Linked DNA regions of Homo sapiens. The protein of the gene in region 1 purifies or fractionates together with the protein of each later gene. This does not show direct contact. Each region holds a gene or a part of one and is shown on either strand. Other genes may lie near its edges.

Region 1 (3,824 bases):
CCATCAAGCCGATTGGGCTCTTCTCCAAGGTTGGTTTTGGGACATTGTGCAGAGGTCATTGGAAAATTTGAAAAGATTCTATTCATTGTACTTTGTAAACTTGGTTATTCAGAAGCTGGGAAAAGGGAGGTGACAAAAAATGTTTGTAGGTTATATTCACTTACAAAGGTATAGTCAGGGTTGGGCGCAATGGCTCACGCCAATAATCCCAGCAGTTTGGGAGGCTGAGTTAGGCAGATAGCTTGAGCTCAGGAGTTCGAGACCAGCCTGGGCAGCATGGCTGCCCATTTCCCCAGAAAAATGGAAAAATTAGCCAGGTGTTGGGGCATGTGCCTGTGGTCCCAGCTACTAGGGAGGCTGACATGGACGGATCACTTGAACCCATGAGGTTGAGGCTGCAGTGAGATTGCACCACTGCACTCCAGCCTGGGTGACAGAGACCCTGTCTCAAACAGCAACAAAAACAAACAACACAAGGGTATAGTTAGATTGGAGAGACCGTATATAAGACATGAAAAAATCTTAATACTTCAGTCGTTCCTTAGATGTTTTGGGTATCAAAATAATCTTCTCTTTGCTTTTCTTAACTCTCACAGTAATGAAGAAGTTAGTACTATTATTATCTCCCATTTTCCAGATGAGGAAATTTAGTTCCTGAGGGTTGAGGTAATGTTGTATCTTTTTCCTTTGTTCCCTGTGTAAGAATTATCTACCCTGGAAAGTAATTAGTAACTAATTTCTCTTTGTTTTTGTGTTGGTGGTTATTGTGTTATTCAAGAATGATGAGTGGTATTAAAAAGTTCACACCAAACCCAGAACCTCTAGTATATGCAGAAGCCATATAGGTTTTTGCTTGTTTTTTGAGAGGCTGCTTCTATCACCTTACGCATTTTCAGTGAGTTAAAATACCATCAGATAACTGTCACTGCCAAAAGAAGCCTGTGAAGACATAGCAACTAAATTATTAGCTGGGCCCGGTGGTGCATGCCTGTAGTCCCAGCTACTCAGGAGGCTGACGCAGGAGAATCGCTTGAACCCAGGAGGTGGAGTTTGCAGTGAGCCGAGATTGCACCACTGTACTCCAGGCGGGGTGACAGAGCAAGACTCTGTCTCTAAAAAATAAAATAAAAGGGCTGGGCACAGTGGCTCACGCCTGTAATCCCAACACTTTGGGAGGCTAAGGCGGGTGGATCACGAGGTCAGGAGTTTGAGACCAGCCTGGCCAACGTGGTGAAACCCCATGTCTACTAAAAATACAAAAATTAGCTGGGCATGGTGGCACGTGCCTGTAATCCCAGCTACTCAGGAGGCTGAGGCAGGAGAATCGCTTGAACCCAGGAGGTGGAGGTTGCAGTGAGCCAAGATTGTGCCATTGGACTCCAGCTTGGGTGATAGAGTGAGACGCTGTCTCAAAAAATAAATAAATAAATAAAATTAAAAACTAAATGTAGGCCGGGCGCGGTGGCTCACGACTGTAATCCCAGCACTTTCGGAGGCCGAGGCAGGTGGATCACAAGGTGAGGAGAGCGAGACTACCCTGGCTAACACGGTGAAACCCCATCTCTACTAAAAATACTAAAAATACAAAAAAAAACAACAACAAAAAAAATTAGCCGGGCATGGTGACGGGCGCCTGTAGTCCCGGCTCCTTGGGAGGCTGAGGCACAAGAATGGCTGAACCCGGGAGGCGGAACTTGGCAGTGAGCCCAGATCACACCACTGTACTCCAGCCAGGGTGACAGCGAGACTCTGTCTCAAAATAAATAAATAAATAAATAAAAATAAATGTAATGTGGTACTGTGGAACAGAAAAAGGACATTAGCAAACTAAGGAAATCTGAATTAAGTATGGACTTCAGTTAATAGTAATGTGTCGGCCGGGCACAGTGGCTCACACCTGTAATCCCAGCACTTCGGGAGGCTGAGGCAGTAGATTACCTAAGGTCGAGAGTTCGAAACCATCCTGGCCAACATGGTGAAACCCCCGTCTCTACTAAAAATACACCAATTAGCCGGGTGTGGTGGCAGGCACCTGTAATCCTAGCTACTCGGGAGACTGAGGGAGAAGAATCGCTTGAGCCCGGGAGGCAGAGTTTGTAGTGAGCCGAGATTGTGCCATTGCACTCTAGCCTGGGCAACAGAGCAAGACTCTGTCTCAAAAAAAAAAAATAGTAATGTGTCAATATTGGGTCATTAGTTGTGACAGATGCTCCATGCTAATGTAGATGTTGGTAATAGGGAAAAACTGGAAGAGTTTATTTTTTCTTACAAAGCACGGTGAAATAGAGGAAGAGTGAGTGGTGATATGAGTGAATTGGAATTATCCATTTCAAATCCTAGAGGTTAGCCTTTTTTAGGAAGCTATTGAGAAGTTTTTATGGTATTTTAAATTCTAAAAATACTAGGATGATGATTTTATTAATTTGGTGAGCATTTGCTAAGGTATTCAGATCAAGGTGCAGGGAGGGACAGGCAGTATGGGAAAATCATAGTTGTGTTCTGAAAGGTGTTATATTTTCTTTCTTTTTTTTTTTGAGATAGGGTCACCCAGGCTGGAGTGTGGTGGCACAGTCTTGGCTCACTGCAACCTCCGCCTCCCAGGTTCAAGTGATGCTCCCACCTCAGCCTCCTGAGTAGCTGGGATTATAGGCATGCGCCACCACAGCCGGGATAATTTTTGTATTTTTAGTAAAGACGAGGTTTCACCATATTGGTCAGGCAGGTCTTGAACTCCCTACCTCAGGTGATCCGCCTACCTCAGCCTCCCAAAGTGCTGAGATTACAGGCATGAGCCACCACGCCCGGACTTAGGTCTTATATTTTCTTTTTTTTTTTTTTTTGAAACGGAATTTCGCTCTTGTTGCCCAGGCTAGAGTGCAATGGCGCGGTCTCGGCTCACGTCAACTTCCATCTGTCCGGTTCAAGCGATTGTCCATCCTCAGCCTCCCAAGTAGCTGGGATTACAGGCGCATGCCGCCACTTCTGGCTAAGTTTTTTGTATTTTAGTGGAGATGGGGTTTCACCATGTTGCCCAGGCTGGTCTCGAACTCTTGAGCTCAGGCAGTCCACCCGTCTTGGCCTCCCAAAGTGCTAGGATCACAGGCGTGAGCCATCCGGCCCAGCCCAGGTCTTATATTTTCATAGAGAAAATAAGATAGGATTTTGACATGTCCCTGTTACTCTTTGACCACTTTCTTGCATTTTGGAAGAAGACGTTTCAGGCTCATCTTGTACTTTTCATGCCCTAGCTGTGGGCAGGGCAGCTTTTCCTGTTGTAGCCATTTCTCCAAAGAGCCCCAGTTCCTTTTAGTTGAGAATGGTATTTAGGGCCAGAAGTGGTAGCTCACACCTGTAATCCCAGCACTTTGGGAGGCCAAGGCAGGAGAATGGCTTGAGCCCAGGAGTTCAACACCCTTGACAACTTAGAGAGAATGCCTCTCTACAAAAAAATTTTTTAAAAGAAAAATCAAGAATGGTATACAATCTATATTTCTGTATATCTATACATACTGAAAATCACAAGTTTATATTGATATCTCGTATTTCCAGTTCATCCCACAGGATTCATTATTTTCTTCCTTTTCATATGTATACCTGCCTTCTTAACCTGCTTGGGCTATGGTACCCCACAACAGGCTGCCCTTTGTCAGAGTATACTCTGACACTCCATGCCAGGCTGCCTTCCTTGAGAATCTCTCTCTTGCTTAGGCTCTAAAACCTTGTTCTCGGGTGTCCAGGTGTATAGACGTTCGCCTCATCTGGCTCTGGATCCTCACACCAGGCTACCCTTTATGGATCTCCTCCTCATCCTGCTTAGACTCAAA
Region 2 (3,824 bases), on another chromosome or scaffold:
CGAATTGGCCACTCAGGTCTGTGTTTTATGAGTTTCTGAACCCCAGAGTAGTACTTGTTCCTCTTTGGTCTTGGCACAGCAAATGCTACAACAAAGTGAGTGTTATGAATTTCTCCTTCCCTGAAGAATAGTTCTCATGATACCAAATTCAGTAATTATTCATTTGCTTCCAGGGGAGTTTGAAATGTGATGTATCTCCCTAGGGGTAGTATTCAGGGTACTTCTGCTTCAGTCTTTGGCAGAAGAAATAATACTTCAATATTTACAGAAGTCGTTGACGCCTCCATCAGCTGTATTTGTTAGAAGCATCTGTGTGAAAATTTGAGTTTGCTTCTGTCCGAACTTCTGCATATTAATCTCTGTGATGGATCTGAGGTGCATTTAAAAGAATACCTCCTGTACTTCTTTTAAGTAAGGACAGCTGTGGGAAGCAGATTGGGTTGGCAGCCTGCACCTATGCGGGGTTCCACCTCTGCCACTTAACAGCTGCGTGGGCTTCAGCAGGTAAGTCACTCTACCTCCTTGAGACCCTAGAATCTATGTAGAACTTGGAAGGTGATAATCCTGTGCCTACTTTGGAGGGTATTAAAACTATCAGTATTGTACATGAAAGTTAGGTGGGGCACTGACTTAATTTAATTAGCATAGTAAAAACGTCTCTCTGTTATATAGGATGTTTATTGAAGCATTGTTTCTAATAGCAAAAGATTGGAAGAGTTAGTAGACTAAATGTCCTTGAAAAGAATAAATCATGCTACAGCTGGGCAACGGAATATTCTGCAAATTTTAAAGAGAACAAAGCTGTTCTATGGGTACTGAATATAGCTGCTTGGTACCACATAATAGGCACTTTTCTGAAGTGTTCAACATGTATTAATTCATTGTGGCTTCACAAAAGCCCACGAGGTAGGGACCCCAATTTTACAGATGAGGAAACTAAGATAAAGGTTAAGTCACTTGTCCAAATATCCACAGCTAGTAGGTGGCAGAGGCAGGATTCAAACCCAGGCAGATTGGCTTAAAGACTCTAATCTTGGCCACCCTGCTGTGCTGTACACCTGTCAGACCTAAGTAGTGATCTTTGTATTTGCAGCTTTAGATACATGAGAGGAAACAAGGTTGAGTTTCTTATTCATCGTTACATTCTGGGAGGCTGACGGTATAATCAACATATAGCTTCTGTTGACAGTAACTAAATAAAGGTTTAGATAAAGAAAGCTAATAGGGAATAACATTTATGATCAATACTTGAAAGGGTGACCGTTTGTTTCTTCCATTACTCCTTATTTTAGATATTTTGAACTTAAACCTCTTTTTTGGGGAAAATCAGAAGCGTACACACTGAATAGCTTACAATTGTTAGTGTAAGAAATCAGTGTTCAAAAGCCCAGTTGAGTCAGTGTTCACTAGCCTGACTGGTCTAGTGTGGCTGGATTAGTATGACTGGCCAAGGGCATCCAGCATTGGTTTCCTTACCCGGTCCTAGCCCCATCTGGTTTGATTTACAAGGTATATACGCTCAGAGAAATGCAGACGGGAGGGAAAGACACTCACATTCTTTAGGGAGCCTCTATCTCCAGATTGCCTGATCTCCCTTGGGTGAAAATGTAAGTCAGGTGTACAAGTCGTACAAGTCATGTATAGCTTGACAATGGGAATACTTTTTGAGAAATGTACTCTTAGGCAATTTTGTTGTTGTGTGTTCATCATAGAGTGTACTTAGACAAACCTAGATGGTTACCACATACATAGGGCATATGATATACCACATTGCTCCTAGGCTACAAACCTGTACAGCAAGTTACTGTACTGAATACTGTAGCTAGCTGTAACACAGTGGCAAGTATCTGTATATCTAAATGAAGAAAAGATATAGTAAAAATATAAAAGATAAAAAATGATACAACTATGTAGGGCACTTGCCATGAATGGAGCTTGCAGGACTGGAAGTTGCTCTGGGTAAGTCAGTGAGTGGGGAGTGAATGTGAAGGCCTAGGACTTTACTGTACACTCTAGACTTTATAAACACTGTATACTTAGGCTACATTAGGTTTATAAAAAATATTTTTTGATTAGGTGTGGTGGCTCATGTCTGTAATCTCAGCACTTTGTGAGGTTGAGGTGGGACCAGGCATTTAAGACCAGCCTGGGCAATATCACAAGACTCCATCTCTACTTATTTATAATAAAAGTTTTTTTAAAAATATGTATTATTTTAATATATATTTTTCTTCCTTAATACATAAACTGTAGCTTATTGTAACATTTCTATTTTATAAATTTTTTAAACTTTTTTACTCTTTTGTAATAATACTTAGCTTAAAACACAGGCTGTATGGCTGCAAAAAAAATATTTTATTTCTTCGTATCCTTATTCTTCAAGCTTTTTTTCTCCTTTTAAAGTTTTTTAAACTTTTTTGTTAAAAACTAAAACAAACATACACATTAGCCTAGGTCTGTACAGGGGCAGGATCATCAATGTCACCGTCTTCCATCTCCACATCTTGTCCCACTGAAAGGTCTGTAGGAGCAGTAACACACATGAGCTGTCATTTCCTATGACAACAATGCCTTCTTCTGGAATACCTCCTGAAGGACCTATCTGAAGCTGTTTCATAGTTAACTTTTTAAAATATGTAATTAGAAGGTGTACACTCAATTAATGATAAAAAAGTATAGTATACCAAATACATAAACCAATGACATAGTTCTTTATCATCAGCATCAAGCATTATGTACTGTCCATAATTTTATGTGTGATACTGTTACAGGTCTAGCTATGCAGTAGGTTTATTTACACCAACATCACCACAAATGTTTTATTGTGCTATGATGTCACTAGGCAATAGGAGTTTTTCAGCTCCATTATAATGTTACAGGAGTATCATTGTATATGTGGTCCATTGTTGATTTAAAGGTCATTATGCGATGCGTGACTATATTTTGAAAACATTCTGATAGAGAATGACATTAAGTCATTTTGATACAAGGCCCCATTAAGGGCCACTGTGCTGGGCCATGGTGTTCAGGCTATAGACAAGTCTGCCACCACCTTCAGTTCTCTTAGGATCCTTAGACTCTTTCAGAACTGAGTTTTCTTTCTGGGTGTGGGACACTAGGTTTGGCAACATTGTAATGGCTATAAGTATCAGCATTCCTAAAATAAGAGAATCACAAAATTCATGGGGTGGCTTATATATTCACATGGAATCTGAACAGGTGATAAAACAACTGTTGGTTTCAGAGACATGCTATAGAGGAGATGAATACACAGTTGCTAGACTGTGTGTCCCTTTGAAAAATGCTGTATTGTAGCAGGATTTTCCCCCATTTTTTACACATTTAACTTTGCTTCTCCCTCTCCTCACTCACCCTCACACCCAAACAACAGTTATAAAATGTGGGCGTGTAGATTGAGTTTTAAAAAAGAAATGTGTTTTTGTGTTATATGCCTTATTTATGTTACACAGGCTTGAATTAAAATCTTTTAAGACATTTTCGTTTGGGGGGTTGCATAACTAATCTTTATTATGTTTCTCCACCGTCTTTTAATTTCAGCTTAAGGTATCACTGCCTTTGTATACTTTGCACAAATTAGGTTGGAGAACTCAATTGATAATTTCCTCAAATGATAATTTATTTTGAATATTCAAGTAATCACATCAGTTAAGAGACTGCACTCAGATAAGAACCATCAGCAGTTGCCTGTAGCAGAAAATGTTGCTTAAAAGCCTTTTGAATATTTGTCTCCCTGTTATTTGCAATTGCAGTCTTTTGGTTTAGATGTTTAGAATATGATTGAAGTAGAGCCCAGACTGCTTAAG

The links.
Region 2: the proteins of TIMM17A (region 1) and ELOVL5 purify together in Homo sapiens (affinity purification with mass spectrometry, with the first as the bait; one large-scale study listed by BioGRID). This does not show direct contact.

What each region holds. Positions count from the first base shown.
Region 1 is NC_000001.11:201,958,243-201,962,066, forward strand, and holds part of TIMM17A (mitochondrial import inner membrane translocase subunit Tim17-A), read left to right. Parts: intron 1-3,824. UniProt on the Homo sapiens protein: Essential component of the TIM23 complex, a complex that mediates the translocation of transit peptide-containing proteins across the mitochondrial inner membrane.
Region 2 is NC_000006.12:53,338,634-53,342,457, reverse strand, and holds part of ELOVL5 (very long chain fatty acid elongase 5), read left to right. Parts: intron 1-3,824. UniProt on the Homo sapiens protein: Catalyzes the first and rate-limiting reaction of the four reactions that constitute the long-chain fatty acids elongation cycle.